Homo sapiens: one gene and its partners. The protein of the gene in region 2 purifies or fractionates together with the protein of the main gene of each other region. This does not show direct contact. Each region holds a gene or a part of one and is shown on either strand. Other genes may lie near its edges.

Region 1 (7,695 bases), on a different chromosome or scaffold from region 2:
TCAGCCAAGAGCTCCCTTGACACAGGCATAGGATGTGAGCCTTGATGGAGGGGCTCAGGGACCTTGGGAACTTGAAGACAGGGGCGGGAAGTGGGTGGGACATCAGGGAGGTTTTCTGAGAGACGTGCCGTCTAAGCTGGAATAGGAATTAGCCAGGAGATGGATTAGGAAGGGCAGTCCCAGCAGAGGGAAACAGCTGGACAAAAGCAGCGGAGACGTGCACTTGAGTAACTGCATGTTCACTGGGGCTGGAACATAGAGCTTAAGGGGGAAAGAGAGGAGAGGTGGGACCACGGGTCGCAGGGACTGCATCCCACAGGGCCCTGTGGGCTGTGCTGGCATTAAGACTTGGGCTGGTGGAATTGAGAACCATGGAAAGGTTTGTAAGTAGAAGCAGAACATGGTCAGATTTCCTCTGAGATCAGTCTAGGATGATCACCAAGAATGACTGGAAAGTCAAGATGGAGCATGGGGCCCAGGAGAAGGATGGCCAGGTGGCCCAAGAGAGAAGCCAGGGCTGCAGGGGCAGAGAGAGGGCCCCAGGAGAGGGTACTCACAGGGGCTGGGGAAAGATGTGACTTTCACCTTTGGAGCTCACAGTCCAGTGAGGAGGGTAGTAAACATCTAAAAGAGCATTTTTCAACCTTTTTCCGTTACTGCCTCTCCTCAAGGAGTCATTTTAGACTTTTGTTCTAATTGCCCAACCATGAAACTTACATATCACAGATATACTGTATATCTGGTTTACATATTAGATACATTTAAAAGAGTGACCTTTTTTTGGCCACCCCAGCCCAGCCCCTCTGCAGTTGCAGATGAGGAGTAGTGAGAAAGAAGAGAGAGGGTGAGGCAGGAGGCAGATGAAGTCAGCCTAGGGAAGAACACAGAGAACCCAGCAAGGACCTGGACTTTTGTTCTCAATGTGACACAAAGCCACTGGAGAGCTTTAAGCATAGGTGTGATGAGACCAGATTTCAGTCCTTACATGCTCACCCAGGCCGCTTTATGGAGGCAAGAAAAGAGGGAGGAAGGGAGACCAGGGAGAAGGCTGGGGCAGGTATCCTGGAGGTGGAGGGTGAGGGTGGTGGTGGATTAAAGCAGGGGCTATATGGGGCAAGAAGTGATGATGTTCTGGATTCTGGATGCATGGCAAAGGCCTGTGTGGTGATGGGGTGGGGCTGAGGATGACTCCAAAGTCTTTACCCTGAACAACCAGAAGGATGAAGGGGATGTTATGGAGAAAAGAGATGAACTGAGGTGAGCCCCTCTTACCTCCACAGTTGCAGGTGAGCGTGGCGGCTGCACCTGCTCAGCGCACTGCAGGAAGCGGCGCATATGCTCTGCACAGTTGCCCACAGCTGCCTCGTTCTGTCGAAGACACTCCTCGAAGGCCTCAAAAGGCTGAGCACAGGCCTGGCGGATCTGGCGGATGATTGGGCTGTGGGGGTAGGGCAGTTCAGCCCCTGGGAGATTCCCACCCCACTGCCCACCCCCCACACTGTCTCATACTTGCCCGCACTCACTGGGAGGATGTGCACTGGGCAATGCTCATCTTAAGGTAGTGACAGTCCCGCTGCCAGGATTCCGGCTTGGCCGCCACACACTGGCCATACTGCTCCAGCTCCCGGCCACAGTAGCGAGCGGTGACCTCTAGGGCCGCCTGCCTGTGGGACAGGATGGGCTGAGGATCATTCCAGGCAGTAGGCAAGCAAGGGAATTCTTTTTTTTTTTTTTATTTTTTAGAGACAGGGTCTCACTGTGGCCCAGGCTGGAGTGCAGTGGCACGATCATAGCTCACTGTAGCCACCAACTCCTGGATTCAAGTGATCTTCCTGCCCCAACCTCCTAAGTAGCTGGGACCACAGGCATGAGCCACCATGCCCAGCTAATTTTTTATGTTTTGTAGAGACAGGGTCTTGCTATGTTGCCGAGGCTGGTATTGAACCCCTGGGCTCAAGCGATCCCCCTGCTTAGACCTCCCAAAGTGCTAGGATTACAGGCATAAGCTATGGTGCTCCGCAAAGAAAGGGAGTTCTGGTCTGGGTCTGAAGTAGGACTAGGAGTTCAGGGCAGATGTGGGAATCTGAAGGATCCTGAGATGGTGCCAAAGAAGTGGAGAGGTGAGGCCCAGCCCTGGGGCTTGTAAAGCAGGAGGGGAGCTTCTGGGGAGAGAGTGGAGGTTCTAAAACAAAGTCTGATTAATGTAAGGTAGGCCTTCAGGGTCCTAGAAGACAGGCCTTGAAATCCAGGCATCCCCCAGTAGGCCTGGGGATCATGCACAGAAGACTTGGGGCCTTAGAAGAAAGATCTAGAATTCCAGGGAGAGCTTGAGAGCCCTTAATGGGTTTGGGGGTTCTAAAAGTGAGGTTTAGAGCTCCAAGAGGTGGGGTCTCAGGTCCTGGGGAAGAGTGTCTTAGCCAAAGAGTCTTCAAGATGAAACCTAAGGCCCTGGTGCGGGACTCAAGGTCCCAGGGGCGTGAAGTCTGGAAGCCCTGGATGAGGTTGGTGCTCTGGGAATCCTGGGCAAGGTCAGAGTGGTCTAGGAACAAGTCTGTGGACCCTATAGGTGAGGACTGGGGTCCCAGGCAGATCTGGAAGGTTCAAAAGGTAAAGTTTGGTGATCAAGGGGGAGGAACCTGGAGCTCTGAGGATGGGTGTAGGAGTCATAGAGGTCCCTAAATAAGTCTGTAGTCTTAGGATTTCAGTGTGAAGGCCGGACCTGGGGTACTGGGGGCAGAGATTGGGTGAAGAGTGACTGGACCGAAGTCCTAAGCAGCGCGAGAGGGGGCGAGGCCTAAACGCTTAGAGGGCGGGGCTTGGGCATGCGGAGGGTTGGAGCTCGTGAGCGAAGGCGCTGAATCCTGAGGGTCAGATCTCCAAGAAGGAGGGAGGCTGGTCCTAGTTCCCGAGGTCCTAGACTAGGTCTAGATCACTGGGTAAAAGAAGGGGAGCGGCAGCACGTATGGGGTAGGCGCTCTCACTACTCACATCTCGAGACCTTTGCCGGCGTAGGGCTGTCCGGGGGGAACGACCCGCCTTTTCCGGTATCGGTTGTCATGGCGGCGCCCAGCCCAGCCTGGTTTTTTCCGGTAGCCAATTGAACTAACAACCCCGTTCCCTTTAGGACTAATCTGTCACGGCGGCGCCCTACCTCTTCTTCCGGCCCGGCTCGTCATGGCGGCGCCCTGAGTAGCCACTTCCGCCCTCTTCTGGCTAAATTGCTTCATCCCTATTTCCGGCTTGCCATGGCAGCGCTCGGGGTTTAACGGAAGTAAGCAATGGAAAGTATGGTGGTGCCTCGGGTCCAAAGAGAATGCGCCGCTGAGTTGCGCGGCACCTGACGGGATTGAGCCTCAGACACAAGCGCTCCAAATCTCCGACTGTAGCTGGTGGGAAGCGCCTGCTGTTGCTGCAGCGTCTCAACATGTTGTTCCCATTTTCGTTGGGTGCTGTAGCGGTAGGCTGTTGGGCTCAGGGATAGGGGGCCTGATTCCTAACGCCGCGCTGCCACCATCGGCCTTGCGCAGACGCTGATAATCCCCCTGGCACCCAGGTTCATGCGAGCGCTTGGAACAGGAGGGAAGAGGGAGTCAAACCAAGAGCCGAACTAATTCGGCTTGGGCCTGCCATTTACCCAGCCTGGGACCCAGACGTTTCCCCATCCCTTAGCGTACGCCAGGACAGACATGGCGTTTAATCCTGACTCCATGAGACTATCAAGCTAGTTACTTCCTCTCTTTGTAATTAATTCCTCCTAATGTAGCAACATTTCCCCCTTCCTTCTCATCTGTCTTAAAAGTGTGAGGTTAGACCTGGGCGTGAGTTTCCCCACATAAGAGACTGGATATCCCCTGGTCAGAGAACTGAGCATCAGTCCTGCCGTTTCGTTTGCAGATCTTTCAAGACTCTAGTCAAAATGAGCAGAACATTTTGCAGTTAATCATAGAGTTGAAGATGAACGAGAAGATGAACGAGAGCTACTTGATTGTGAACTAGTAACGACCACTTGGAGTCGCAGTGTGTCTGTAAAATGATGATGACAGTGACATCATAGAGGACATAGTGCAAGTGAACAGTTTGATACTGAGCTTGGAGCCTCAGTAGTTCTGGATAAGTGAGAGCTGTACGGGAGGTTGTAACCATGAGCTACCCTGGTTGGCAGTTGACATCCGAGGACCAGCACTGGTCATCGCACAGAAAGAAAACTTTACACCTTGAGATCCCTCCATTCTTCTTAAACTTCCAAGTGTATGTTTGATGGGAGAAGAGGGGAAGGGATCAACATTTAAAGGCTCTGGAAGGAGTCAGATAACTGTTTTTGGCTTCAAATGTAGAATGAATCCCTAGATTTTCCTCTACTGAGAGAATGAAATCTTAACCCATTCCGTTCCCTTGTTGGTACTCAGAAACGGATACCCCAAAGATGCATTTTGACATGCTGAAAGGCCTTAGAAGCTGCCTTAGAAGATCTGTCTAACCTTGTCTTGTTGGTGTGTGGAAGTGGGAATGCCCACAGGTGCACAGGGAGGGAGTTTCTGAAATTATCTGACCGAGAAAGCAAAAAAAAAAAATCAATTGTCTTAAACCCGGTTTCTAGGGATCTCATTAAAGAACTAGGAAAAATTAACCACCTGTTAACAGAAAAACCAAACTGAAATGTTTTAAAGAGATTTATTTTGAGCCAATATGAGTGACCATGGCCTGGGGAACACAGGCTCAAGAGGTCCTGAGAAAGTGTGCCTGAGACAGTAGAATTACAGTTTGGTTTTGTACATTTTAGGTGGACAGGAGTTACAGACAAAGACATAAATCAGTACATGGAAGGTACAGATTGTGTTCAGCTGGGTGCAGTGGCTCACGCCTGTAATCCCAGCACTTTGGGAGGTCGAGGTGGGCGAATCGCTTGAGGTCAGGAGTTCGAGACCAGCCTGGCTAACATGGTGAAACCGTGTCTCTACAAAAAATACAAAAAATTAGCCAGGGATGGTGGCAGGCACCTGTAGTCCTGGAGCTACTCAGGAGGTTGAGGCACGAGAATTGCTGCGGAGGTTGTAGTGAGCCGAGACCACACCACTGCACTCCAGCCTGGGTGACAGAGCATGACTCTGTCTCAAAAAAAAAAAAAAAATTCTACGGTATTTTTATAATACATTTTGTAGTACCACTTATAACCACTTGGGTGCGTGGGTTGCCCATTAAATCAAACAGTTTACAGTTCACCCTTGAACAACATGGATTTAAACTGTACTGGTCCACTTATACTCAGATTTTCTTCTGCCGCTGTCACTCTGAGACAGCAAGACCAACCCCCCTTCCTCTCCTCAGCCTACTCAATGTGAAAAGGACAAGGATGAAGGCCTTTATGATGATCCACTTCCACTTAATGAATAGTATATTTTATCTTCCTTACGATTTCCTTAATAACAGTTTCTTCTCTCTACTTTACTATTGCAAGAATACAGTATATAATGCATATAACATACAAAATATGTGTTCATCTATGTCATCAGTAAGACTTCAGATCGACAGTAGGCTATTAATAGTTAAGTTTTGGGGGAGTCAAAAGTTATATGTGGATTTTCTACTGCATTGTTTAAGGGTCAACTGTAGATTCAACGACTACCTAGGATTGTAGAGTTGACTGATAGCACTGGGACTGATGATAACATCATAACCTGTAAGAAGTGTCAACAATGGTGATGGACCCCCAGCAACCCTGGAGTGGGGATGTCTAAAGATAGATGTCATCCACCAGGCAGGAGTTGGTGCTGCCAGTGTGTCATGTACTGCAGCCTCTTTTATTTATTTATTTATTTTTATTTATTTTTTGAGACAGCATCTCGCTTTGTCACCCAGGCTGGAATGCAGTGGCACAATCTCGGCTTACTGCAACCTCCACCTCCCGGGTTCAAGCGATTCTTCTGCCTCAGCCTCCCAAATAGCTGGGACTACAGGTGCGCACCACCACGCCAGGCTAATTTTTGTATTTTTAGTAGAGACGGGGTTCCATCATATTGGCCAGGCTGGTCTCAAAGTCCTGACCTCGTGATCCGCCCATGTCGGCCTCCCAAAGTGCTGAGATTACAGGTATGAGCCACAGCGCCTGGCCTGCAGTCCCTTTTACTACAACAAATATGGGAAAGAGTCACAGGTGTGGCATACGGTGGTGGCTTCTGCGTTAGAAACATAGGCCAAGTACAGTGGCTCATGCCTATAAATCTCAGCACTTTGGGAAACTGAGGTGGCCAGACTGCTTGAGCCCAGGAGTTTGAGATCAGCCTGGGCAACATGGCGAAATTCTGTCTCTACAAAAAGTACAAAAGTTACCCGGGTGTGGTGATGTCATAGGTAGTAGATTTATCCTTCAAACATCAACAACTAAAAAATCTGGACAAAATAGGAGACAACAGAGTTCAGACATTGGAAACAAGCATTGTAGCACAGTGGTCCCCAAGAGAAAGGAGACAAATGAAGTGACCTTAGTGGCCCGGCTTATGTCTGGAGAGTTAGTTTCTAGGCTACATAGCCCAGGGGTGTCCCTGAGTTGGGACAAAGTTGAGAATTTGGAGAGGCCAAGGCAGCTAGTTTGTAAGGCAGGGTACCAGAGAGTAGCGCAGCACAGACCTGCAAAGGGTTTCCTGCACGTGTAGCGCACAGCATGCCTGTGAACACACTCCTGGAAACCAAGGGAACTACCAGGAAGGTGCAGGCAGAGCAATCCCCGGAGCCATAGTGGAGACCATCACTGTGCACTGGCTAAACTACTCAAAGATACTGCCTGTCTAGTGAGGCAAAATTAGCCCTAATGGCCGCTCTGGTCTCACCTAAGTAAGCTCAGAAACACTGAAGCAAGCTCTCAGTTCGAAGGAAAATGGAAATCTGGCATATGAAATCAAGATCTCCAGATACAGTAAATATAACTCTTATGACAAAATAGCACAAAGGCCAAGAGACAGGAAAGTGTGTGCTGTTGCTAAGTTGTTCTACTACCTGTGAAGTGGTAGAATATTACATAAAAGTGTGACAAGTCTAAAGATGTACACTAGAAATTTTAAGAGAAACAACAAAAAATGAAAATGGAGGTAGGGTTAATAAGCCAACAAAGGAGATAAAAATGAAATAATACAAAATAAATTAGCCCCGCACAAGTATGGCCATCTGATTTAAACCCTGTCACTCCAGCTGGAGTGCAGTGGCGTGATCACGGCTCACTGCAGCCTCGACTCCCAGGCTTAGACGATACTCCCACCTCAGCCTCCTGGGGAGCTGGGACTACAGGTGCACACCACCATGCCTGGCTAATTTTTTTAGTAGAGATGGGGTCTGGCTGTGTTGCCCAGGCTGGTCTCAAACTCCTGGGCTCAAGCAATCATCCCACTTCAGCTTCTCAAAGTGCAGGGATTACAGGCGTGAGCCAGTGCACCCGGCCTATGGCCATCTGATTTTTGACAGAAGTGCAGAAGTAATTCAATAGAGAAAGGATCGTTTTCAAGTAACAGTCCTGGAGCAATTGGATATCTATTGGCAAAAAAAAAAAAAAAAAAAAAAAAAAAAATCTTGATCTAAACCTTACACTTTGTACAAAAATGAACTCTTAAGTGGAAAATGGATCATAGATTTAAATATAAAGCATAAAACTATAAAACCTTTAGAAAATAACATATGAGAAAATCTTTGGGCTAGGTGAAGAGTTCT
Region 2 (6,744 bases):
TGGAAGGCTGTGAGGTAGGTGGATCACTTGAGCCCAGGAGTTCGAGACTAGCCTGGGCAACATGGTGAAACCCCGTCTCTACAAAAAAAAAAAAAAAAAAAAAATTAGCTGGGCATCGTGGTGTGCCTATAGTCCCAGCTACTTGGGAGGCTGAGGAGGAAGGATCACTTGAACCTGGGAGGTGAAGGTTGCAGTGAGCCGAGATCACACCACTGTACTCCAGCCTGGGCAACAGAGCAAGACTCTGCCTCAAAACAAAACAAAACAAGATTTCTAAACATATCTATTAAGGAAAAATTAAATAGAAAACTTGATTAGATCTCTAACAAAGAGGCTGAACTGGTAGTCAATTCAGAAGAATGGTATTAGAAGTGAGAAGCAGAAAAAACACAGGAATTACATTTTTTGTTCAGTGTTAAGGAGATTTTGCAAATCTCCTTAAAAAAAAAACACACACAAACCAGAAACTGATCTTAAAGCTATAAGCAGTATAAGTTGAAACTAGGAAAAGAAAGCTATACCATGTTTTTTTGGTAGAAATGATTGTGATGTACAAATTTTTTATTTGATCATACTTAAAAAGACAGAGCAGAATCACATTCATTTTCTTAATAGTATCACTGTAAACATAGCGAATTTTGGCGCTTTTAGATTGCTCTGAAAATTTCTGAAGAGTTGACCATAGCAGCCTGGTAAGCCTTTTCCTTTCCCCCAAAGCTCTCCTGCCCTTTGCAGAAAGACTGTTGGTGACAACTGATGCTAACTAAATAGCATGTGGTTGAGCTTGCCAAATCCTTCCACCTCCTCCCATAGGCAACAGGGTGACTTGGCTTAAAGGCATTGAGTAAGCAAGTAGGTTATCAGAGAACAGAGGGAAGATTCCATTGTAGATAATTTCCAAATATTACAATTGATGAACTCAGAGTTCAACTGCTCAGTTCCTTCTTCTGCTGACCTGATACAGATATAATCACAATGGATCTCAGATCTTTGGTCCATTTAGACATCAGGGTAATGTACTCAGTTCCTTTAATTAAAATGTGTTGGAAAAGCCATCTCTGGGTGGAGAAGAGAAGTTCGTTGATTATAGTGATGGTACTATAAGAGAAAAACTGAAGCAGGAAAACAGTGAGCAGCGCCTCTTTCTTCTTGCACTCAAATGATTACTTCACTCCTGTCAGCTTTATAGTCCAAGCAAACTCTGCGGGGACAGCAGAGGGTGGCAACTGGGGTAGAGAGATGAAGAGACCTTTATCTGGATCTGTGGACCACTTCAGATCTCCTTGAATTCCCAGCATTGTTATCTGCAGAAAACAAAAGGGAATGAAACAAACTGGTAATGCACTAATGAGTATAGAATACAGGCTGACTATGGTAGGAAACAGCCACGCTGGGCCAGGGCAGGAAAGCCAGTCTAAAAGAGGTGTGAATATGGGAGAAACCTGGCAGGGAAGGAAGAAAGGAAGGATCTGCCAATTCCTTTACAGAAAGTTACATCTTAAGACTGACTAAGCCTCTTTACCTTTGTAGTTGAGGTAGTTATGGGGGATTCAAGGTTTAAGACTCCATTTTCTGGCCAGTGCAGAAAAATGGCATAAACAGCCGATCCCTTTGAGGTATACCTGGGAAAACAGAAACAACACTGTCAAAGATACCTGACTTGTTATCCTGATATACAACTTTATACATTTCCTCCTTTTTAATGTTAATTTTCTTTTCTTTTCTTTTTTTTTTTTTTGAGACAGAGTCTCCCTCTGTTGCCCAGGCTGGAGTGCAATGGTGTGATGTTGGCTCACTGTAACCTCCGCCTCCTGGGTTCAAGCAATTCTTGTGGTTCAGCCTCCTGAGTCACTGGATTACAGGTGTGCACCACCACGCCTGGCTAACTTTTGTATTTTTAGTAGAGATGGCATTTTGCTATGTTGACCAGGCTGGTCTTGAACTCCTGGCCTCAAGTGATCCACCTGCATTGGCCTCCCAAAGTGCTGGGATTACAAGTATGAGCCATTGCACTCAGCTCCTTATTTATTTTTTTTTTGAGACGAAGCCTTGTTGTCCAGGCTCTTGTTGTCCAGGATGGAGTGCAGTGGCGTGATCTTGGCTCACTACAACCTCCACTTCCCAGGTTCAAGCAATTCTCCTGCCTCAGGCTCCTGAGTAACTGGGATTACAGGTGCCTGCCACCATACCCTGCTAATTTTTGTATTTTTAGTAAAGACGGGGTTTCGCCATGTTGGCCAGACTGGTCTTGAACTCCTGACCTCAGGTGATCCACCCGCCTCGGCCTCCCAAAGTGTTCGGATTACAGGCGTGAGTCACTGTTTTGGGCCTAATTTCTTTTTTTTTAAGTGATGGAGTCTTGCTGTGTTGCCCAACACAACTTGCTGTGTTGTGCTGGGCTCAAGTGATCCTCCCACCTTGGCCTTAGAAAGTGCTGGGATTACAGGCATGAAGCACTGCACAAGGCCACTCATTCCCCTTTCAATTATCTACCAAATCCCAGTCCTCGAGTCTGTCACTGTTACTAGGGAGCACCAATAACTCAATACCAATGAAGGTGTGCAGGAAGGAGGCAGTCTATAAAACTCTATCTGGTGATACTATCTATTTTCCCTACCAATTGGGTTAAGTTGTCTTTAAAAATTATCTCCTACATCAGTTACTGCAAATAAATAGAGCCATTTACCTTATTATTCAAATCTCTTTTCTATTCCAAATCCATGTGAAAATAGCAGAGACTATAACAAGGACAAGACATGCAATGAAAACAAATTTGTTGTTCAGAGATTTCTTTTTTTTTTTTTCTGAGACTGCACCCAGCCTGTTCTGAAATTTCACTATGTTTAGAGAAGAGGATGAAAATCACTACTATGGTTTGAATGCATCTCCCAAATCTCATGATGGAAACTTAATCCCCAAATTCATATGTCGATGGTATAGTATTTAGAGGTGAGGCCTTTGGGAAGTAATTAGGATCATATAAGGTAATCAGGGCAGGGCCCCATGATGGGACTGATGGCTTTATAAAAGGAAGAAAGACCTGAGTGGACATGCCCACTCTCATCCCCAACCATGTCATGATGTAGCAGGAAGGCCCTTACCAGATGCTGGTGCTATGCTCTTGAACTTCCCAGCCTCCAGAACTGTGAGCTAAATAAACCTCTATTCTTTAAAAATTATCCAGTCTAAGCCAGGTGCAGTGGCTCATGCCTGTAATCCCAGCACTTTGAGAGGCAGAGGCAGGTGGATCACTTGAGGCCAGGAGTTTGAGACCAGCCTGGCCAACATGGTGAAACCCCATCTCTACTAAAAATGCAAAAATTAGCTGGGCGTGGTGGCGGGTGCCTATAATCCCAGCTGCTTGGGAGGCTGAGGCAGGAGAATTGCTTGAACCTTGGAGGCAGAGGTTGCAGTGAGCTGAGATTCTGCCACTGTACTCCAACCTGGGTGACAGAGTGAGACTGTCTAAAAAATAATAATAAAATAAAATAAAAATCCAGCCTGTGGGATTCAGTTATAGCAACAGAAAATGGACTAAGACAACCACTAAACAGAAACTCATCCAAAACAGAGGGATTAATAGAGGGATTAGATCCAGAGACCTAAGCTCTCTGGTATAATAAAAGCAGTTCCCTTTAATTGAACACTGAGTTTGTGCCTGGCACTCATCTCATTTAATCCTCACAACACTATAAAGCATCATCACTCCATTCTGCAGTGGAAAAAATGGGGCCCAAGATCAAATAACTAGATCCAGAAGTCCAAGTATGAATGGAAAGAATTTTGGATGGGGCTCCGTACAATCCAAGCATTCATTATTACTATTTTTAGGGGGCAGGGTAATAATCTCAATAAATTGACTGATGCTTTGTTGCTCCTTCCCTTTTCACCAAACCCACTCTCTCCCTTCACTAGTCAAAGATAACCAAGTAGCCTGAGACATAACTCAAATGGGGTACAAATTTTATAGGAAAATAACCTTCTGGATTTTCTCAAGGCAACTTCCAGCCTGGCTTGTGACATTGTGGACCCAAGGAGATACCAGTTCCGGATGGGGCACTGTTCTGTTCTTACACACAACAGAAGACAAGACTCACCATACAGATGTTGTGTTCTTTTCCCATTGCACCCGCCATGGTTTGGAGGCATAGATAGCCTCCCCATTGATGCTCAGCCATTTCCCAACAGCAAGAAGCCTTTCTTGGAAGATGGGAACAATCAGTCCATCTTTAGTTGGTCCAATGTTCAGAAGATAGTTGCCTCCCAAACTTACTGTCTGAACCAGTTCCTGGAGAGAACAGAAACAATGAAAGTCTAGCTATGAATGCCAAGCCTGGCATCATGCTTAAAATAGACAGAGAAGAAAAAGAATCTAGGGCACACTCTGTTTTTTAAATATCCTCTGCTGTTTTAATTTTTTTTTTTTTCTTTTTGAGCTGGAGTTTCACTCTTGTCGCCCAGGCTAGAGTGCAATGGCGTGATCTTGGCTCAACTGCATCTCGGCTCACTGCAACCTCCACCTCCCTGTTCAAGCGATTCTCCTGCCTCAGTCTCCTGAGTAGCTGGAATTACAGGCATGCGCCACCACATCCAGCTAATATCATTCTATTTTTAGTAGAGACAGGGTTTCACCACGTTGGCCAGGCCAGTCTCAAAACTCCTGACCTCAGGTGATCTGCCTGCCTTGGCCTCCCGAAGTGCTGGGATCACAAGCATGAGTCACCGCACCTGAGCTAAAAATTCTCTCTCTATATATATTTTTGTCACTATAAAAGCAGGTTAGGCTCATGTGAGTAAATGAAAAATCAGGCTATATTATATTAACTTGAATTTCAGGGAGTGGCCATGGAGCACTTCCTGTGACACTGTACTTCTCATGGTGCTGAGTGCAGTGGGAAGGGTCATGCCCCAGAAACATGAGGTGTGGGCAGGGAAGCTGAGAATTTCAGGACATTCCTTACGCATTGGGCTATATAAATGAACATGCTGCCCCTTTGGGAAAACTGCTATAAAGAGATACGTTCTTTTTTTTTTTTTTTTTTTTTTTTTGAGACGGACTCTTGCTCTGTCTCCCAGGCTGGAGTGCAGTGGCACAATCTCGGCTCACTGCAACCTCCGCCTCCTGGGTTCAAGTGATTCTCCTGCCTCAGGCTCCCGAGTAGCTGGGACTACAGGTGCGCACCACCATGCCCAGTTAATTTTTGTATTTTTAGTAGAGATGGGGTTTCACTATGTTGGCCAGGCTGGTCTTGAACTCCTGACTTTGTGATCCACCTATCTCAGCCTCCCAAAGTGCTGGTATTACAGGTGTGAGCCACCGTGCTCAGCCAAGAGATACATTCTTTAAGACTTCTGGAGTGGGATTTGGGTGTGTGTGTTTTTACTGTGACCTTGAACAGGTATTATACATATCCAGGCAGCTCAGAAAAACTAAGGTTATATAGAGAAAATTTTAAATTCATTACAGAATTTGAAGAATTCAGACAGGCATGGTGGATCACACCTGTAATCCCAGCACTTTGGGAAGCCAGGACAGGTGGATTACCTGAGGTCAGGAGTTTGAGACCAGCCTGGCCAACGTGGTGAAGGCCCTGTCTCTACTAAAAATACAAAAATTAGCTGGGCACAGTGGTAGGCACCTGTAGTCCCAGCTATGCGGGAGGCTGAGGCAAGAGAATCACTTGAACCCGGGAGGTGGAGGTTGCAGCAAGCTGAGATCGTGCCATTGCACTCCAGCCTGGGCAACAAGAGCGAAATTCCATCTCAAAAAAAAAAAAAAAAGAATTAAAGAATTCATTATAAGAATTCATTACAGTACTCCAAGTGACACCACACCATTAACTTTTGATGTCTTCTTCTAGTCTTTTTCCTATGTAGTTAATTTTATATAGTTGTAATAATATGTAACTTATTTTATTTATTTATTATTATTTAAAAAAAATTTTTGTTTCAGACGGAGTCTAGCTCTGTCACCCAGGCTGGAGTGCAGTGGCGCAATCTCAGCTCACTGCAACCTCTGCCTCCTGGGTTCAAGCAATTCTCCTGCCTCAGCCTCCTGAGTAGCTGGGATTATAGGCATGTGCCACCACGCCCAGCTAATTTTTTTTGTATTTTTTAGTAGAGACGGGGTTTCACCACATTGGCCAGGATGGTCTCGAATTCCTGACTTTGTGATCCACCCTCCTTGGCCTCCCAAAGTGCTGGGATTACAGGTGTCAGCCACCGTGCCTGGCCACTTATTTTTATTTTTTAAAATAGAGATGGGGTCTCACTATGTTGTTTAGGCTGGTCTTAAACTCCTGCCCTCAAGCAATCCTCTTGTCTTGGTCTCCCAAAGTGTTGGAGTTACAAGTGTGAGCCACCACCATGCCCAGCCAATATGTAACTTTATTAAAAATAATAATAATAATAGAGATGGGGTCTTTCTATTTTGGCCAGGCTGGTCTTGAACTCCTGGCCTCAAAGGATCCTCCCACCTTGGCCTCCTAAAGTGTTGGCATTACAGGTATGAGCCACTGTGCCCAGCCAATATGTAACTGTTTTTTCATTCAGTGCTCTAAACATTAACCCATATTAAATTTGTCAACATTTTTATGGTTACCAGGAGTTCGAGACAAGCCTGGCCAACATGAAGAAACCCTGTCTCTACTAAAAACACAAAAATAAGCTGGGCATGGTGGCACGTGCCTGTATTCCCAGCTATTCGGGAGGCTGAGGCAGGAGAATTGCTTGAACCCGGGAGAC
Region 3 (7,030 bases), on a different chromosome or scaffold from region 2:
CTCATATCTGTAATCCCAGCACTTTGGGAGGCCAAGGCAGGCAGATCAGTTGAGCCCAGGAGTTCAAGACCAGCCTGGGCAACATAGCAAAACCCCGTCTCTACTAAAAATACACAATTAGCCCGGTGTGGTGGTGTGAGCCTGAGGTCCCAGCTACTCGGACGGCTGAGGTGGAAGGATGACTTGAGTCTAGGAGATGGAGGTTACAGTGAGTGAGATTGCATCACTGCACTCCAGCCTGGGTGGCAGAGTGAGCCTGTCTCAAAACAGAGAAACAAAAAAGCAAGATGCAGAGCATTTCCAGTACCTGGAAGGTTTGCTCATGCTTTCCCCACAGTCCGTCTCTATTCCTCATCCACTTGTTTTCTTTTATCGAACAGGCAGATTGTACTTGCCTGTTCTTGAACTTCAGATAAATGGAATCATACAGTACATATTATTTTGTGTCTGGCTACTTTTGCTCAACATCAGGGTTTTGAGATTCATCCACGTTGTTGCATATTATCAGGAGTTTGTTCTCTCTCTCTCTCTCTCTGTCTCTCTTTTTTGCAGAATATGCTATCGCTAATTTATCTACTCTCCTGTTCTGACAGTTGGGTTGTTTCCAGTTTGGGCTACTGTATCAGTTTGTTAGGGCTGCCGTAACAGACCACCATAGGCTGGGTGGCTTAAATGACAGAGGTTGTTTTTTATTATTATTATTATTCTGAAAGCTAGAAATCCACGATCAAGCTTTTGGCAGGGTTGATTTCTTCTGAGGGCCTCTCTCCTTGGCGTGTCACTGGCCATTCTGTCTTCTCTCTGTGTCCTCACATGGTCTTTCCTCTGTATATGTGTCCTACTGTCCTCTTTTTGTAAGGATACCAGCCATATGGGATTAGGGTCCACCACAATGACCTCATTTAACCTTAATTACCTCTTCAAAGGCTCTAAGTACGGTCATATTCTGATGTAGTAAGGGTTAGTTAGGACTTCAACATATGAATTTGGGGGGGACACAAGTCCATAACAGCTTCTGTGAATAAAGCTGCCATGAACATTTTGGCTCAGATTTTGTACATGTACAGTTGTCCAAAGTAGGTGAGCCAATTTACACTCCCACAGCAATGCGTGAGTGTTCCAGTAGCTCTGCATCCTCACCAACTGCTTCATTTGACAGATGAGAAACAGAGACCCACAGAGAGGGGTGCAAATCTCACTTTCCCATGTGCAGGTCATAAGTTCGAGGTTGCAGAGCAGAGCATGCCAAGGAAGCCCTGTCCCCAAACTGCTTTAGGAATTTCTGACACTTCCCAACACATTACTTAGCTCAATCATTCAGTCATTCATCAAAAAGAACAGTGAGAACCATCTGTGGCTCCGTCCTGTGCTAGGTCCTGGAAGCAAGGTGATGAACAGAGGGACAGGAAACTGACATTCAGGTTGGAGCAAGAGACAATGAACACAAGGACTCAGTAAGTCTTGTGGGTTTTGGTAGGTGCTGGGCAAAGAAGCAACAGAACCTAAGCAGAAGTTGAGATAGAGAAAAAGGAGCTTGGCAGTGGGGAGGGTAAACTCACCTGTAGATGGGCTGCTCTGAAGGGCATCTCTGAGAGGGGATAGATAGGAGAACCCTGAAGGATACAAAGGCGCCAGCCAGACAAAGGCCAAGGAAATTGCCAAGGCAAAGAGAATGGGAGGAGCACAAGCCCTGAGGCAGGAGCAGCTCTGGAGAGGGGAGGGGTGAGGAAATGATGGTCTGTGTAACTGGACCCAGTGGACAGGGGTTGTGGGAGGCAGGAGATGAGGTCTACCGGGCGGGCGAGGGCCTAGACCATGCAGGGCTTGCAGGTCTTGGGAAGAGTTTGGATTTTATTCTAAGGGTAATGGGAAACCACTGGAGGGTTTCAGGGGAGGGGCAAGCAAGATCCAACTGACATTAACATATGGATGGCATGGGGGAGAAGCAGGCACACTCTTTCAGAAACTGTTACCCTTCCCTAGGTGATAGTCACTTAGACTTGGGAGGTGGCAGGAGAGATATATTCTGGAGGTAAAATTGACAGGATGTGGTGAGGGGTTGGATGGGCCTGTTGTGAATAGGAAGCGAGTAATGGATAACTTCTAAGTTTTGAGCTTTGACTCTCCTGACAGAAGGCAAGGACCTTTCAGCTATAACTTACCAACCTCTGACTGTGCTGTTCTCTTGTTCATCTCACTACTGGATATCTTGAGCCTCAGGACATAGTAAGTGTTCAATAAACATTCTTGAATGTATGAACTGACTGCATGCAAGAATGCTTTAGCACAGCAGGGCCCAACCTTTTTGTCACCAGGGACCGGTTTTGTGGAAGACAAGTTTTCCACAGATGGTGGGGGGACAGGGGATGGTTTTGGGATGAAACTGTTCTATCTCGGATCATCAGGCATTAGATTCTCATAAGGCACCCACAACCTAGATTTCTTGAATGTGCAGTTCACAATAGAGTTCACACTCCTATGAGAATCTAATGCCACCACTGATCTGACAGGAGGCAGAGCTCAGGTGGTAATGCTCGCTGGCCCACAGCTTGCCTCCTGGTTCCTAACAGGCCACAGACTGTCCAGAGGCCCAGCGTTTGGGGACCCCTGCTTTAGCACAGGGAATGGGTTCAATAAAGAGTTTTTTTCTTTTGAAAATTTTTACTCAGGTAAAATTCACATAACATCAATTAACCATTTTAAAGTGTACAGTTTAGTGGCATTTAGTACCTTCACAATGTTGTGGAACCATCATCTCCATCTAGTTCCAAAATGTTTTATCACTCCCAAAGGAGTCCCTATACTCATTAAGCAGTCATTCCCCATTCCTTCCTCCCCACCCCCACTACTATGCTTTCTGTCTCTGTGGATTTACCTATTCTAAATATTTCATAAGATGTAATCACATCATATGTGACTTTTTGTGTCTGGCTTCTTTCATTAGCATACATTTCTGAGATTCATTCATTGTAGAATGTATTAGCATTTTATTCTCTCCCCCCCACCTTTTTTTTTTTTTTTTTTTTTGAGACAGGGTCTCACCCTGTGGCCTAGGCTGGGGTGCAGTGGCATGATCTTGGCTCACTGCAGTCTCCATATCCCAGGTTCAAGCAATCCTCCCGCCTTAGCCTCCCAAGTAGTTGGAACTACAGTCCCTTGCCACCACACCAGCTATTTTATTTTATTTTATTTTTATTTTTAGCAGAGATGAGGTCTTGCTATGTTGCCCAGGCTGGTTTCAAACTCCTAGTCTTACACGATTCTGCTGCCTCAGCTTTCCAAAGTGTTGGGATTACAGTCATGAGCTGCCCTGCTGGGCCACTTTATTCCTTTTAATGGCTAAATAACATTCCATTAGATGGATGTATCACACTTTGTTTACCCATTCATCCTTTGACAGACGTTAGAGTTGTTTCTACCTTTTGGTTATTGTAAATAGTGTTGCTGTGAACACTGGTGTACGTGCATTTGTCTGAATACCTGTTTTCAATTCTTTTGGGTATTAGCCTAAGGGTGGAATTGCTGGTCATATAGTAATCTATGTTTAACTTTTTGAGGAACCACCAGATTGTTTTCCAACAGCTCAATAATGTTTTACTGAAGTTAAATAGAATAAGCAGGAGGGAGTCTGGGAGGCAGGGATGAGGGCTTTTCCTGTCCTTCACAGGCAGCCCTGGACTCTGCCATTTACCGGCTGTGTGATCTGGATCAACGTACTTAAATTCCCTGCGCTGCCTCCTAATCCTCAAAGTGGAGAAAATAAAACCTAATTTCTGTGAGCTGCGTGAGATACTGTTTCTGAAGCTCCAGGCACAGAGTAAGCCCCCGCTCATTAATTGCCTTCCCTTACTCCCTGACCTTGCCTTTTCGCACTTCACTCGCTGCCACGTGGCCTCGGAGCCCAGTCCGCACCCGCAGCCCCCAGCTGAGCCAGGCTGCAGACTACAACTCCCAGCGAGCACTTCTTCCCGGCCGCCTCTCCCCAGCTGCTGCGCATGCTTTGGCAGACGTGGCACCGGGAACTCGGAGGCGGGGAGCGGCTGGGAAGTGGCCGTGGTGGTTGGCCGCGGTGGAGCTAGCAGGCGGGCGGGCGGGAGCGGGCGCCGGAGTGGAGAAAGGAGCCAGCGGTGGGCAGCGCTGCTGGGATGGCGCGGGCCGGGCCGGCGTGGCTGCTGCTGGCAATCTGGGTGAGACTGTGGGGCAGGGATCCGGGCCGGGCCAGCACGTGTGTCCCGCGTGCCCTTCTGCGCTCTCTGCTCCAGCCCTCTGCGGAACGTGCGGGGAGCTGCCCCGGGGCACCGGGATGAGGGCGTGCATGCCAGGCAGGCGGGCACTGGGTGCTACGCGGGAGACAGCGGGCGTCCCGGTGCCCTCGCCGCCAAGCGCTCCCGGACGCAGGGGCAGGAGGCAGCTGTGGGGCGCCGGGAGATCCCTGGCAGGGTGCTTACGCCACGGCCACAACTTTGCGGGGATGCAGGTCGGGGCACAGCCGGTCGGGCAGGACGCCGGCGGGCTGCGGGGTGAGCTCCGCTCCAGACTCCGAGCCCTGCACCTGTGTGAGTGCGGGGTGGGATGGGGGTGCTTACTACCTGCACTGCCGGAAACCTTGGTTTAGGGCCACCTTGTTCTTGGCTTCGGCCCCAGGCGTCTGGGAAACTGCGGGCCACCACCTGGGCCTCCGCCCACAGGCCAGGCTCGGTGGGCTGGGTGGGGTCGACGTAGCCCGCCCCGGCGGAGGAGCTGCTCCTACACCCAACTGAGGCGGGCTCGAGCCTCAGCCACTTTCTAGCTGTGTGACGCGGCGGTTCATTTAATGTATCTGAGCTAGTTTCCTCATGCATGATATAGAAAGGCAAAGCTACCCCCATAGGGTGGTTCTGAGAGTCGGATGAGGTCTCAGTGGAGGAAGCTGTGTAAACTGCAAAATCTTACAAAAGTGGAAAAGGAGTGGACTCCAAGAGTAGTTTGCTACACTTGGTGGGGGGGACTCCAGGCATCCCTGAGAGAGGTCGGAATGGGTGTGCCTGCCGGCCCAGGTCTGGGGTTTGGCCTTCGTTTCGCTGTGGGTGTGTGATGAGATATTGTGGCCTCCTTCCCCATCTTTTCCATAACTTATGCGCTCCCTTATTTTAGGACCATCCTGGTCCTTTTCCCCTGAAGTTCCAGGGAACTTCCTGTTCCTGGCACCCTCCCCCCAACCCAGATTTTCCCGTTCTTTTCCATTTGGGTGTGGCAAGGACACTGGGCAAATGGGAGGAGAAAAGTGTGGGTTGAGTTGCTTGAAACACTTCCATCTCCCAATACCCTGGCCTTTTGGATCACCAGTGAGGAGTGGCCTGGTACTCTCTGGTTGGAAGTGGGTGGGGAAAGAAGCCCCCTGTTCTCTTCGGTCTGTGTTCTCCCTCTTGGGGAGAACCAGGCTGGAGTGGGGCAGTGTCACTTAATTGCGTCTGGGTTTGTTGAATGCTGGTTTGCCATCAGTTCCCTGGAGCCAGTTGGTCTGGGCGGGTCTCTGGGCCAGGAGGAGGGAGCTATCTCCTGAAACGCCCCCCATCGGTCTTTGCACTTGGGCTGAGTAGGAGGTCCTGCTTTCCTCCCTTTCCCCTCCCTTTTGTGAAAACAAACGGCTTGAGAATCTGAAATTTCATTCGGCAGACATTTATTTGTCAATCACATTGTTTGGATTGATATTTTGCCCTCCACTGGGTTAGATTTTGGGCGGAGAGCAAAACACACATTGTACCTGCCGTCTGGTGTTGCCCTGGATTGGGCAAAGGAGTCAGTCCTGTGAGCAAATAATGACAGAACTGCAAGTGCTGTGACCTTAAGTACTAGTATCCTTCACTGAACCGGAGCCATACGTTGATTTAAAGGGAGGTCAGCCATGGCTTTCCTGAGGTGGTAGGGTTGAACAGAGTCTGAAAGATGTGTGGTAGTTAGCTAGGCAGTGGAGGGCTGCAGGTCCCCTTCACCAGGAGGTGCGGAAGAGCAGGTAGGTTTGCTGAAAGCACTAGAACCTGGGAGTCCTGAGCAAGCAATTTCTATCTTCTCCTTTCCCTAAGCCCTAGAGTTGGCTTAGCGGGTAGGAGGTGGAGGGAGCATGCCAACAGGAGCAGTGGTGAGTGATTGCTGGACAGCGCGTTGGGTCTTTGTAAATTTAAATGCTGTATCTATCTGATAAGTGCTCCCCAGGTTCCTGGAAGCCGGTTGGGTTTCTTTGTTCACTCAATATTTACTGAGGGCTGATATGTGCACAGGACTGGGCTGTGACCTGAAGGGTATAAAGGCATCTGCAGGGATTCGTGTACAGGGATATACACCCACCACATTTTTTACAATAGCAAAATGTGGAAATGGGTTAAATGCTCAATAATAGTGGCATGGTTAAATAATATCTGGCCTTGTCCATATCATGGAAAGTGATATTTATCTTTTTCAGTTTGGCCTGCTATAAGAAATATCCCATAGACTGGTGGTGTAGAACAATTGAAATGTATTTTTCACAGTTCTGCAGACCAAAAGTCCGAAATCAGGGTGCCAGCATGGTTGAATTCTAGTGAGGACCCTCCTCCAGAAGACTCTTGACTTCTCACTGTATTCTCATATGATAGAAAGAAGACTAGACAGTTCTCTTGGGTCCCTTTTTCAAGGGCACTAATCCTATTCATGAGCGATCCACCCTCATGACCTAATTACGTACCAAGGGCCCCACCTCCTAACACCACCACTTTGGGGGTTAGGATTTTAACATATGAATTTTCAGGGGAATGACAGAAATACTCAGTCCTGGCCGGGCACAGTTGCTCACACCTGTAATCCCAGCAGTTTGGGAGGCTGAGGCGGGTGGATCACCTGAGGTCAGGAGTTCGAGACCAGCCTGGCCAACATGGTGAAACCCCGTCTCTACTAAAAATACAAAAATTAGCCAAGCATGGTAGCGGGCGCCTGTAGTCCCAGCTACTCAGAAGGCTGAGGCAGGAGAATCGCTTGAACCCAGGAGGCAGAGGGTGCAGTGGGCTGAGATCGCGCC
Region 4 (5,654 bases), on a different chromosome or scaffold from region 2:
TTCAAGGGAATTGTTTTAACATGTTAAGAGGCTAAGCACAAAAGTAGCATTCAAGTGTTGGTTAGACACTTTTGAATATTATTTGATTTAAACATTTCTTTCAAATGGCATGCAAGAAATGGCTTAGGGGTTCTCAGGACTGAGGAATCAGGATGGGAACTTGATAACAGGGACCTTAGGTTGAAAGCTATTGTTCTAAAACAAGGTGCTTTCCCGGCATGGGAAGCAAATGCTGGGTTTTACAAGACCACAAGTGAGGCAGTGCCTTTGACTTGGCATTATCTACTGTGGCAACAAGCAGCAAGGTCATGATAGGGTTACTGGTGGAATAGCCTTGCTTTTTGGAACAAAAATTCCCACAAATTACCCACATATCAAAGTTATCCATTAGCTAACAAACATGAACGTTTTCTAGCAAATAAAACACGCATATCACAAAGTCCTCTCTTTAAAAGAAAACATAAAGAAGAGAAAGAGAAAAGAAGCTGATGACGGTGAAGCCTGATTTAGCAGATACGTTTATTCAACACAGTGCATGATTCAAAGCATCGGATATTCCACAGCCAACAAGGTTTCCTATTCCCTATTACAAAATACCGGATACCCTGAATATAGCTCATTCAAGGTCCTCGTTCCTTTTTCCCTATATCTAGAATTAAACAGGTTTCCCCGTTTAGCGCACATTTCACGTTCGCTGAAGGCTTTGGGGAGAGGGGGAAACAGAGCTTATGACTGCCCCTCTGAACCAAAGGCACTTAATGTTAAAAGATAAAGCACAGTAGAGTCACCCCACAGACATTCCTATGTGTTCAACGGCTGAACTTCAGCATACCATCACCGGCCCCATGTGGGATTCATCATAACAACGTAAAAGACACTGATTTCCTTGGAAAAACAAAGTGCAGTACGAATATAAAGGAGTCACCACACCCCTCTTCCGAAAATAATACATAAGAGAACTCTTACTTTACATGATTAGTATCACTCAAGGTTCACACATGGAAAAAATAGCTAAAAAATAATCTATAATAAATTCTCACTATGAAGTCACAATAGAATCTGATACCCTTTTTAGAACTGGTGAGTTGGAGAGACACCCAGAGGTCATGCTGTCCATCCCTTCATTTGATAGGGGAGGGCACTTGAGGCCCAGGAAGGTCAAGCGTCGGACCTGGGGTCTAACCCCTGTGGCAGAGCCTGCGTAGGACGCGGGCCTCCTGAAGCCTAGCTCAGGGTTCCCTCCACTCCCCTTCCTCTTTAAAGACTCTCAAAAGTAAAATATGGTGATGATCTCCAAAGATGCACCACACCATAAAGCACATGCACTGACCCAGGTCAGCAATTTGGTCTCACAAGGCGGTTCCTTTGGCCATTGGGCAGGTATGTAACCCACCTCAGGGTGGGAATTCTTTGCATGGGATCGTTCAAAGTTCTGAGAAAAGCCCAATGTAGGTCAGACACGACTGCTCCTTGGACTGGGGAAGACTTTCCTTGGTTGTCAGTCCATAGTGGGCAGGCGGTCGGCTGCACAGCGGAATCCCAGATTCGAAGCAGAGCTATCAGGTGTGTTCTGGCTCCGAGCAGCACAGCGATACCTGTAACAATAAGACTGTGTAGAGAGAAAGAGCAAGGTAAGTGCTACTGGGACTCTCAGCTGAAGGCTCTAACCCATCAGATGCATATTGCACCGGCTGTAGACAGTGCTTCCCCACAACCCTGCCTGTATGGATACTTAACATGTATGCTTTAAAAAGGGCAGCACATTCAAGAACTAACCACATATTTTCCAACGTCCTTCACCTTATAAATGTAACACGGATATAGTACAAAGATGTTCAGCATTAGATATAACAGCAAAAAAGAAAAATGTAACAACCAATGATTGCCTAAGTTTAGGCACATCCATATAATAGAAAAGTAAGCAGCCATTGAAAGTCATGTCTTTACATAGTATTTAATGACACAGGAAGTTTTCATGATAAAATGTTAAATGAGGCCAGGCGCACTGGCTCACACCTGTAATCCCAACATTTTGGGAGGCTGAAATGGGAGAACTGTTTGAGGCCAGGAGCTCGAGGCCAGCCTGGGCAACACAGCAAGATCCCATCTCTACAAAAAATTAGCTGAGCATGGTGGTGTGCACTTGTAGTCACAGCTACTCTAGAGGTTGAAGTGGGAAGATCTCTTGAGCCTGGGTGTTTGAGGCTGCAGTACACCATCACTGAGCCACTGTACTAAAGCCTGGGTGACAGAGCAAGATCTTGTGTCCAAAAAAAGAAAAAAAAACAGTTAAAATGAAAAAGGCAGAATATAAAGGTGTATATGTGGTATGACCACAGTGTAGATAACTACATGTGCCAAGAAGAAAAGACTGGAAGATTCCGAATGCACCACAATGTGCACAGTAGTTATCCCTCAAGCAATCTGAGTTTCATGTTTCCTATATGAAACCTATTCAGTATTCCAATACAATAAGAATATATATTAATTTTTGAAATTAAACCAAGTAATAAGTGATAGATGGCCACTGAAAAAATACTAAGAACAACACTAAGACACCATTTAATACCTAAATAATATTTATGATATTATTTATTATCTAAATCATATTTATGATATCATTTAATGCCAGTAGATCGGCAAAAAATTAAACAACAAGTCTAGGAACATCAAACATAGGAAAGGCTGTGGGACAACATTGCTTTTTAAAAATACATTGCTCTTCCATTTCTTTGTATCCTCTTTTATTTCATTGAGCAGTGGTTTGTAGTTCTCCTTGAAGAGGTCCTTCACGTCCCTTGTAAGGTGGATTCCTAGGTATTTTATTCTCTTTGAAGTAATTGTGAATGGGAGTTCACTCATGATTTGGCTCTCTGTTTGTCTGTTATTGGTGTATAAGATTGCTTGTGATTTTTGTACATTGATTTCGTATCCTGAGACGTTGCTGAAGTTGCTTATCAGCTTAAGGAGACTTTGGGCTGACACAATGGGGTTTTCTAGATATACAATCATGTCATCTGCAAACAGGGACAATTTGACTTCCTCTTTTCCTAATTGAATACCCTTTATTTCCTTCTCCTGCCTAATCGCCCTGGCCAGAACTTCCAACACTATGTTGAATAGGAGTGGTGAGAGAGGGCATCCCTGTCTTGTGCCAGTTTTCAAAGGGAATGCTTCCAGTTTTTGCCCATTCAGTGTGATATTGGCTGTGGGTCTGTCATAGATAGCTCTTATTATTTTGAGATACATCCCATCAATACCTAATTTATTGAGAGTTTTTAGCATGAAGGGTTGTTGAATTGTGTCAAAGGCCTTTTCTGCATCTATTGAGATAATCATGTGGTTTTTGTCTTTGGTTCTGTTTATATGCTGGATTACATTTATTCATTTGCGTATATTGAACCAGACTTGCATCCCAGGGATGAAGCCCACTTGATCATGGTGGATAAGCTTTTTGATGTGCTGCTGGATTCGGTTTGCCAGTATTTTATTGAGGATTTTTGCATCAATGTTCATCAAGGATATTGGTCTAAAATTCTCTTTCTTGGTTGAGTCTCTGCCCGGCTTTGGTATCAGGATGATGCTGGCCTCATCAAATGAGTTAGGGAGGATTCCCTCTTTTTCTATTGATTGGAATAGTTTCAGAAGGAATGGTACCAGTTCCTCCTTGTACCTGTGGTAGAATTCGGCTGTGAATCCATCTGGTCCTGGACTCTTTTTGGTTGGTAAGCTATTGATTATTGCCACAATTTCAGAGCCTGTTATTGGTCTATTCAGAGATTCAACTTCTTCCTGGTTTAGTCTTGGGAGAGTGTATGTGTCGAGGAATTTATCCATTTCTTCTAGATTTTCTAGTTTATTTGTGTAGAGGTGTTTGTAGTATTCTCTGATGGTAGTTTGTATTTCTGTGGGATCGGTGGTGATATCCCCTTTATCATTTTTTATTGGGTCTATTTGATTCTTCTCTCTTTTCTTCTTTATTAGTCTTGCTAGCGGTCTATCAATTTTGTTGATCCTTTCAAAAAACCAGCTCCTGGATTCATTAATTTTTTGAAGGGTTTTTTGTGTCTCTATTTCCTTCAGTTCTGCTCTGATTTTAGTTATTTCTTGCCTTCTGCTAGCTTTTGAATGTGTTTGCTCTTGCTTTTCTGGTTCTTTTAATTGTGATGTTAGGGTATCAATTTTGGATCTTTCCTGCTTTCTCTTGTGGGCATTTAGTGCTATAAATTTCCCTCTACACACTGCTTTGAATGTGTCCCAGAGATTCTGGTATGTTGTGTCTTTGTTCTTGTTGGTTTCAAAGAACATCTTTATTTCTGCCTTCATTTCATTATGTACCCAGTAGTCATTTTTGTTCAGTTTCCATGTAGTTGAGCGGTTTTGAGTGAGTTTCTTAATCCTGAGTTCTAGTTTGATTGCACTGTGGTCTGAGAGACAGTTTGTTATAATTTCTGTTCTTTTACATTTGCTGAGGAGAGCTTTACTTCCAACTATGTGGTCAATTTTGGAATAGGTGTGGTGTGGTGCTGAAAAAAATGTATATTCTGTTGATTTGGGGTGGAGAGTTCTGTAGATGTCTATTAGGTCTGCTTGGTGCAGAGCTGAGTTCAATTCCTGGATATCCTTGTTAACTTTCTGTCTCGTTGATCTGTCTAATGTTGACAGTGGGGTGTTAAAGTCTCCCATTATTATTGTGTGGGAGTCTAAGTCTCTTTGTAGGTCACTCAGGATTTGCTTTATGAATCTGGGTGCTTCTGTATTGGGTGCATATATATTTAGGATAGTTAGCTCTTGTTGTTGAATTGATCCCTTTATCATTATGTAATGGCCTTCTTTGTCTCTTTTGATCTTTGTTGGTTTAAAGTCTGTTTTATCAGAGACTAGGATTGCAACCCCTGCCTTTTTTTGTTTTCCGTTTGCTTGGTAGATCTTCCTCCATCCTTTTATTTTGAGCCTATGTGTGTCTCTGCACGTGAGATGGGTTTCCTGAATACAGCACACTGATGGGTCTTGACTCTTTATCCAATTTGCCAGTCTGTGTCTTTTAATTGGAGCATTTAGTCCATTTACATTTAAAGTTAATATTGTTATGTGTGAATTTGATCCTGTCATTATGATGTTAGCTGGTGATTTTGCTCGTTAGTTGATGCAGTTTCTTCCTAGTCTCGATGGTCTTTACAATTTGGCATGATTTTGCAGTGGCTGGTACCGGTTGTTCCTTTCCATATTTAGTGTTTCCTTCAGGAGCTCTTTTAGGGCAGGCCTGGTAGCAACAAAATCTCTCAGCATTTGCTTGTCTGTAAAGTATCTTATTTCTCCTTCACTTATGAAGCTTAGTTTGGCTGGATATGAAATTCTGGGTTGAAAATTCTTTTCTTTAAGAATGTTGAATATTGGCCCCCACTCTCTTCTGGCTTGTAGAGTTTCTGCCGAGAGATCCGCTGTTAGTCTGATGGGCTTCCCTTCGTGGGTAACCCGACCTTTCTCTCTGGCTGCCCTTAGCATTTTTTCCTTCATTTCAACTTTGGTGAATCTGATAATTATGTGTCTTGGAGTTGCTCTTCTCGAGGAGTATCTTTGTGGTGTTCTCTGTATTTCCTGAATCTGAATGTTGGCCTGCCTTGTTAGATTGGGGAAGTTCTCCTGGATAATAA

What was found.
Region 1: the proteins of FUCA1 (region 2) and CHCHD5 purify together in Homo sapiens (affinity purification with mass spectrometry; 2 studies listed by BioGRID and IntAct, with this or other methods). This does not show direct contact.
Region 3: the proteins of FUCA1 (region 2) and PDIA5 purify together in Homo sapiens (affinity purification with mass spectrometry; 2 studies listed by BioGRID and IntAct, with this or other methods). This does not show direct contact.
Region 4: the proteins of FUCA1 (region 2) and SUMF1 purify together in Homo sapiens (affinity purification with mass spectrometry; 2 studies listed by BioGRID and IntAct, with this or other methods). This does not show direct contact.

Annotation. Positions count from the first base shown.
Region 1 is NC_000002.12:112,579,943-112,587,637, reverse strand, and holds the start of CHCHD5 (coiled-coil-helix-coiled-coil-helix domain-containing protein 5), read right to left. Parts: upstream 3,030-7,695; 5' UTR 2,991-3,029; coding exon 2,989-2,990; exon of another isoform or gene 2,985-2,988; intron 2,968-2,984; exon of another isoform or gene 2,823-2,967; intron 2,785-2,822; exon of another isoform or gene 2,720-2,784; intron 2,502-2,719; exon of another isoform or gene 2,366-2,501; intron 1,665-2,365; coding exon 1,524-1,664; exon of another isoform or gene 1,514-1,523; intron 1,439-1,513; coding exon 1,273-1,438; coding exon of another isoform or gene 1,105-1,272; exon of another isoform or gene 1-1,104.
Region 2 is NC_000001.11:23,844,552-23,851,295, forward strand, and holds the end of FUCA1 (tissue alpha-L-fucosidase precursor), read right to left. Parts: intron 4,289-6,744; coding exon 4,098-4,288; intron 1,623-4,097; coding exon 1,523-1,622; intron 1,305-1,522; coding exon 1,164-1,304; 3' UTR 526-1,163; downstream 1-525. UniProt on the Homo sapiens protein: Alpha-L-fucosidase is responsible for hydrolyzing the alpha-1,6-linked fucose joined to the reducing-end N-acetylglucosamine of the carbohydrate moieties of glycoproteins.
Region 3 is NC_000003.12:123,063,020-123,070,049, forward strand, and holds the start of PDIA5 (protein disulfide-isomerase A5 precursor), read left to right. Parts: upstream 1-4,005; 5' UTR 4,006-4,145; coding exon 4,146-4,187; intron 4,188-7,030.
Region 4 is NC_000003.12:4,360,646-4,366,299, forward strand, and holds the end of SUMF1 (formylglycine-generating enzyme isoform 1 precursor), read right to left. Parts: intron 1,610-5,654; coding exon 1,499-1,609; 3' UTR 501-1,498; downstream 1-500.